Homo sapiens: one gene and its partner. The protein of the gene in region 2 interacts with the protein of the main gene of each other region in a pairwise test. Each region holds a gene or a part of one and is shown on either strand. Other genes may lie near its edges.

Region 1 (3,753 bases), on a different chromosome or scaffold from region 2:
GCAAGAGCCTGTTGTTTTAAGAATCAGTTGTGGTCAGGGGTTATTGGTTGCAAGGAAAAGAGACCCATTCATGGTAACTTAATTAATAATGAGAATATTAGTAACATTTATTGACCACGTACTGTGTTCCAGGGATTAGCCTAAGGCTTTATGCAGAGTATTTCATTTAATCCTCACAATACTTCAATAAGGTCGGTTCTATGGTTATCTCTATTTTACATATGAGGAGACTAAGACACAGGAGGTTAACTTGTCAAAGTCACACAAAGAGAGGTAGTAACCAGTATTTGAACCATGAAAGAGAGATTCATTGTAAGGATATAATAGGGAATTTCCTGCCGGTTCCAGAACAATCAATAACAGGAACCCTCTAAGCTTCAGTTTCCCTGTCTATAAAGTTAGGATATAATAAATAGTACCTCCTTCGGAGACTAATTGTCAGGAGCAAATGAGATAAAATAGAAACAAATGTTCAGTGCATTTCCCATCACGTCGTAAATGCTTAGCAAATGTTAGCTGTTAATAATTAGAAAGGGGGCTGTATTAGTCTGTTCTCATGTGCTAATAAAGACATACCTGAGACTGGGTAATTTATAAAGGAAAGAGGTTTAATGGATTCACAGTTCCACATGGCTGGGGAGGCCTCACAGTCATGGTGGAAGGTGAATGAGGAGCAAAGTCACATCTTATATGGCAGCAGGCCAGAGAGGTTGTGTAGGGGAACTCCCCTCTGTAAAACCATCAGATCTCGTGAGACTTAATTCCCTATCACCAGAACAGCACAGGAAAGACCTGCCCCCGTTACTCAATTACTTCCCTCCAGATCCCTCCTATGACGCAGGGGAATTATGGGAGCTATAATTCAAGATGAGATTTGGGTGGGGACACAGCCAAACCATATCAGGGGCTGATCTCAGTGGATCCAAGCTTTCCAAAGTGTTTTGGGAGTTAAGAGTGCAAGTATGCCCCAAACGGTCCCCAAAGAAGTTAAAGGCTTGGAGAGGGACTGGGGACAGTGGACAGAGGGTCTGGGGTGTTCTGGCCAGAAAGTGACAGGCCCTCGCCCACTCCTGCCCCCAGAGGCTTTCCTGATCCCCACCCCTTACTATGGCGCTATCACACAGCACGTGTGTCTCTATGGCAACATCCGGCTGGCCTATGTCTACCTGGACAGTGAGGTAAGAGTCTTGACTTCCTAGGTGGAACCTGGGCCTGCCTGTGGTCAAGAGTTTCCTGGGTCTGAATTTGAGGGTGGTCCATGCTGAGGGCTCTGGGGTTGTGATGAGTAGGGAATGGAGCCTTCTGTTGCTGCATGGCTGCCTGTGCCTGGGTTCCCCAGTGGCTCCAAAGTTCCAGTCTCTGAGATCCCTGGGGTTGATGTAGAAGCCAAGAGCCAGACCCAGAAACAGCAAGGTAGGAACAGAGCAGGGTAGACCTAAGCATGACACCCAAGAGTGATGAGGGGGTCTCTGAAGTGATGGGTTGGGGGTGGATGGCAGTAAGAGGGAGGGACCCCACCTGCTTTTCCAGAGACTCTTCTGAGGAGGCTGGGGATTACAGGGGAGGAGAGGCCTGAGAGTTCATATGTATTTTGGGGGGCAATGGTCACTGAATGTGGCTGGTGGCTCTGATGGGTCTTTTTCCAGGTCACTGGGCTAGACACACGCCCCTTCCAGCTCACAGTGGAGAAGCTGGAGATGGCCCTGAGAGAAGCTCACTCTGAGGTCTGGGGATCAAATCAAACCTGAGGCTGGGTGTGGGTGGGTCTGAGCAGGGTCTGGACCCCTCTTCTTGTGACTGATCTCCTCCCGGGAGTAGGGTTGATACCCGGTGATTGGGACAGACAGGTAGGGTGGTAGCACAGAATTATTCTGGGAGTCAGGCAGAACCCTGCCCAGGGAGGGTCTTCCCTTTCAAAACAGACTCTCAGACCTCAGTTCACAGAGAATCAACCAGGGAGCATCACTAAAGATACCCCCATCCCTGATCCATCTGATTATGATTCAGTGGGTCAAGTATGGAGTACAGGAGTCTGTGGTTTTACAAGTCTCCCTGGTAGTTTGAGGGGGCAACCTTGCTCACTGTGGGGGGAGCTGAGGACTCCCAAAGGAGAGCAGAGACCAGTATTCCAGTGGTTCCTTTCCAGCCTACTTTTCAAAAATCTACTTAATTTTTTTTTACTTCTGTCATGAAAGCTATACATACTCACTGTAGGAATTTTGAAAGTGCAAAAGGCCAACCCAAAATTCTACCAACAAAGGTAACCTACTGGTATTTGGGTATATTTTTTCTCTGGGCCTTGTCCTCCGCCTTTATCTGATGCTGCAGATGTAATTCTGTGTTCCGCTTGTTTGCTTCATGTTGTGTTATGAACATGTCCCCCTCAAATCTCCCTGGGAGCCTTCCAGCGATCAGCCCCCTTTGACTGTGTGGCTCTGGCCTTGGGGAAGAGCTGAGGGTCTCCTGCCCTAACGGATGGTTTCAGGGTGTGAAGGTCAAAGGCCTCATCCTCATCAGCCCCCAGAACCCTCTGGGTGATGTATACTCCCCTGAAGAGCTACAGGAGTACCTGGTATTTGCCAAGAGGTGAGGCACCCCACACTGGCCCCGACAGAGCGTCTGGGCAGCCTGGGGTTCCAATGCGGGTTTGGTGCAGGTTTTTCTACTCTCTTGACCCCACTGTGGGCTGCTACTTGCTTGGGCCCTTCCTTGGCAGTGGAGCGGGGAAGCAGGGATTTGTGGGATGCCCATTCCTCTTTATCTTTCACTCTTTATAACAATAGCTATCAATTAGCGCACACTCTAGGGGCCAGGCACCATGCTAAGCACTTTATGTGCCTCATACAATCCTCACAACAATGCTATCATACAATCCTCACAACAACCCTTTATGTGCCTCATACAATCCTCACAACAACCCTCATACAATCCTTACAACAATCCTTACAACAATCCTCACAACAACCCTACTGATGCTGTTATCACATCCAGCTCACTGAGCCTTAGAGTGGTCAAGTGAGGGGTGGATCCAGACTTGAACCTGGGTCTCTCCGACTCGAGCCCTTGTGCATGACCTTGCCCCTCCATGGAGGTGCCCGGGAGATCCTTTTCTCCCCTGCAGTGCTTCAAAAGCTCCTCTGTCACCTGCTCTGTATGTGTGGCTTTCTGTTTGAAAAAAACAGAAGAAAGAATGGTGTTCTTGGAAAAACAAGTTTGGTAACCCCGGGCTAGACCCCGGCCCCTCTGGATTTCTGATGTATTACCTCCCCACCCTGTGGGACGCATCTGCCCTACACACTAAGTCTCTCCTCCCCACCCCTGCCTCACTCCAGGCACAGGCTGCATGTGATTGTGGATGAGGTCTACATGCTGTCCGTGTTTGAGAAGTCTGTTGGGTACCGCAGTGTCCTAAGCCTGGAAAGGTGAGGCTCCCTGACACAGCTAACTCCCCCAGTCCCTATTATCCCACGGAGCCCTGGCCACTTTCTGGCTCAGCCCACAGGGCATGGCCTGCCCAGAGCAATTCCATTTCCACCCAGCTGGTCCCACTGGTCCTCAGATCTAATGAGAAGCAGGGACGGTTGGGCTAGATTAGTGATTTTCAAGTTGTTCTGTGGAATTTCTGAGAACTCCAAGAAGAGGCCTCAGGATCCCTTAAGTTAGGGCTGAGTGGATGGCAAATTGGCCTCTTTGCTGTTTCCTTTACCTCCAGAGTCGCTCCAGTTTTATTCATTCATTCATTTACTCATTCAT
Region 2 (3,252 bases):
GGCAGTTTTGCACTGATGGAGTGGCAAATATCAGCTGGAGAGACATGGGAGATGCAACCTGAAAGGTGTACGCCATATTGAGATGCCTGGACTTCATCCTGTGAGCAGCAGAGTGTTTGGATAGATTCTGGGAAGTGAAAATGTTGGGGCAAAGGGGATGAATATTTGAAGTTTTTCAATACTGGACTTCCAATTTGCTTTTCAAAAGTTTATAATAATTTATATTCATCTAAGCAATCACGAGGGTCCCTTTATTGCATTCCTGCCTGCACTGAGTGCTCTCATTAAAAGCAATCTTTGTGAATTTGGTTGGAGAGTTTCTTGTTTAAACTTGCATTTCTTGGATTGAGTAGCTAGACGTTTTTCCATATGCTATTATCAAGTTGTTATTTCTCTTTCATCAATCTTGTTCATGTCCTTCACCTATGGGCCTATTTTTAATTTTCACAGCCTTTTCCTTATTTGTTTAGTTTTCCTCTTAGCTCCCTCTTCCCCCTTCCCAAACCTGGGTCAGTTCTTATCTATTTGTATGAGACCTTTATATGTTTAGATAGTACCCCTTTTACTTACATTTGCTGAAATGATATTTTTATTTCATCGTTTGAATTTTATTTGAGGTTTTTTGGATGCCTTTTCAACTTTGTTCATGGTGGGTTTTGTCAAATGGAAGTTTCTGATTTTTATGTAGTACAAACTCTCAGTCCTCTCCTCTGTGGTTTTGCCTCTGAGGTCATGCTTTGAGAAGTCCTCTCTTTACTCCAAGTTTTCATAAATATCCAGCAAGGTTTCATCCAGTACTTTTAGGTATAAGAAACAAAACCATAAATCTTCAATCCCTCTGGAGTTTAGGGATATGGTGTGAGCAGAGTATATTTTTGAGAGATACTAAGAAGTCCAGTTGGCCTGACTGGATATCAGTTAGATGTGTAAGAGGTGGATGTGAGGAAGGGTAAAAGAGAGAGGTCCGGAGGGGCTCCACAAACACGGGTCTGTTGAGGGTGATGCAGCCTGGTAATCAGCCCCTTCTGTGGCTTCTCATTCTGTGAGACGTTGGCTGTGCTGCATATTCTAAATCTACTCTTGTCCCTTCTGGATTCAGCTCTGTACCCCAGGAGAGATAAATTGATGTAAAGACTGCACAAATAGACACTTTTGCCTTCTGGCTTCTGGCTTGGGCTTGGCCAGCCAGTGTGGGGAGGGTGGCCACCTGCAAGAGAGGGCAGATGAGAGAGACAGAGATATTTATTCCCCAGCCCACGTTCCTCTGAAGAAAGCTACAGCTCCTGTCAGGCAGCCCCTCTCAAGATTCCTACAGCTCTCCCTTCCATCCCTCCCCACTCTGCTATCTCTATCAAAGTTGGTTCTCCTTGACCTTGCCTGCCGTTTGTTAATTGTCCCTTCATTGGACATTCTTTGGTTTGCCTGATTGGGTGTGCCACACTTTCCTGCCAGGACTCTGACTCACACAGAACTGGGCTGCCCTTGAGAATGGCTAGGTTGCCCCATGAGAGCACCAAGTGCTGCTACTTGGAACTGGTTTGTGGTCAGTTCCTGGAAAACCAAAGCTTGCTTCTTTGAGGTAAGCTAACTCATGCCCCAGAGTCAGACTCCAGGAGACCACACTAGTTCCAGTTGAAGGGAGTGGCCTTCCAAAGCCTGGCTTCTACCACCCCCACCTGTCTGCCTCTACCCATGATAGATCTGCTTCCAATCAGAGACTTACTCTTCTACACAATTTAATGCAGGTAAATGCCAGTGCTAAAAAGATGCCATATGATAGAAAACAGAAGGTTTGTCCATTCTGAAAACATTGTGTTCTCTTTCCTCCTGTTTTAACTCCCTCTTCCCCAAACACATTCTGCAAAATTCTACCTCTAACCTTTTTTCCTTCTATTCTCAGTCCCCTGCAATGGCACTTGCAATCCTCACCATACTCTGTCTAAATTCTAGCTTTACTTTAAGACAAAAATTAAATTCTGCCTACTGAGAGAAGCTCTTTGTCAACCCCAGGCACTTGACATTTCTATTTTCTTTGACTTTGTAAAGCACTTACTACTTCAACCAATCATTTACTATTTAACAATAATAAATACTATTTACCTAGTGTTCACTGTGGGCCATTTCAGGTTTCATTTATTCCTTGAAAATTTTTCCAAGGTGAGCACAATTATCCTCTTTTCATAGAGGCTCAGACATGTTAGGTAACGGGTACAAGATCACACTTTGCAAGTGAGCAAATGGAAAGTTAAATTCTGTCTTCCTTGAAATTGCTATGTTGTCTTTTCTTTTTTATTTAAGGTGTACAGCATGATGTTTTGATACAAATATACATAGTGAAATGATTACTACAGGCAAGCAAATTAAAATATCCATTACCACGATAGTACTTTGTGTATGTGTGTCTGGTGAGCACCTAAAATCTACACTTTCAGCAAATTTTTAGTGTACAATATAATTATAGTCACCATGCTGTACATGAAATCTCTAGACCTGTTCATCTTGTATAATTGCAAGTTTGTGTATCCTTTGACCTACCTCTCCCCATTTCCTGATCCTTCCCACTCTGGAAACCACCATTCTTCTCTGTTTCTATGTATTTGACATGTTTTAGATTGCACAAATAAATAAGATCATGCAGTATTTCTCTTTCTGTGTCTGGCTTATTTCAGTTAGCATAATGTCTTCCAGGTCATCCATGTTGTCACAAATGGCAGTATCTTATTATTTTTTAAGGCTTAATAACATACCATTGTGTGTGTGTGTGTGTGTGTGTGTGTGTGTGTGTGTGTGTGACAATTTTTTCATTCATCTGTTGGCAGACACTGGTTGTTTCCATGTCTTTACTATTGTGAATAATGCTGCATCGAACATGTGGGCACAGATGCCTTCTGAGATGGTGGTTTCATTTTTTGGAGGTATATATCCAGAACTGGGATTGCTGGATTGCATGGTAGTTCTACTTTTAATTTTTTGAAGAATGTCCATACTGTTTTCCATAATGGCTGCATGAATCTACATTCCCACCAACAGTGCACAAGCACTGTCTTTTCTCTACACCCTCACCAACACTTGTTATCTCCTGTCATTTTCATAGTAGTTACCCTCATAGGTGTAAAAGGATATTTCTTTGTGGTTTTAATTTGCATTTCCCTGATGATTAGTGATAATGAGCACCTTTTCACGTACCTTTTGGCCATTTTCATGTCTTCTTTAGGAAGATGTCTATTCAGGTCCTTTGCCCATGCTTTAATC

The links.
Region 1: the proteins of UQCRB (region 2) and ACCS interact in binary tests that used the Homo sapiens proteins (3 or more experiments, as listed by UniProt).

What each region holds. Positions count from the first base shown.
Region 1 is NC_000011.10:44,076,199-44,079,951, forward strand, and holds part of ACCS (1-aminocyclopropane-1-carboxylate synthase-like protein 1), read left to right. Parts: intron 1-1,080; coding exon 1,081-1,178; intron 1,179-1,339; coding exon of another isoform or gene 1,340-1,363; exon of another isoform or gene 1,364-1,646; coding exon 1,647-1,724; exon of another isoform or gene 1,725-2,485; coding exon 2,486-2,586; exon of another isoform or gene 2,587-3,332; coding exon 3,333-3,422; exon of another isoform or gene 3,423-3,753. UniProt on the Homo sapiens protein: Does not catalyze the synthesis of 1-aminocyclopropane-1-carboxylate but is capable of catalyzing the deamination of L-vinylglycine.
Region 2 is NC_000008.11:96,222,335-96,225,586, reverse strand, and holds the end of UQCRB (cytochrome b-c1 complex subunit 7), read left to right. Parts: 3' UTR 1-2,640; downstream 2,641-3,252. UniProt on the Homo sapiens protein: Component of the ubiquinol-cytochrome c oxidoreductase, a multisubunit transmembrane complex that is part of the mitochondrial electron transport chain which drives oxidative phosphorylation.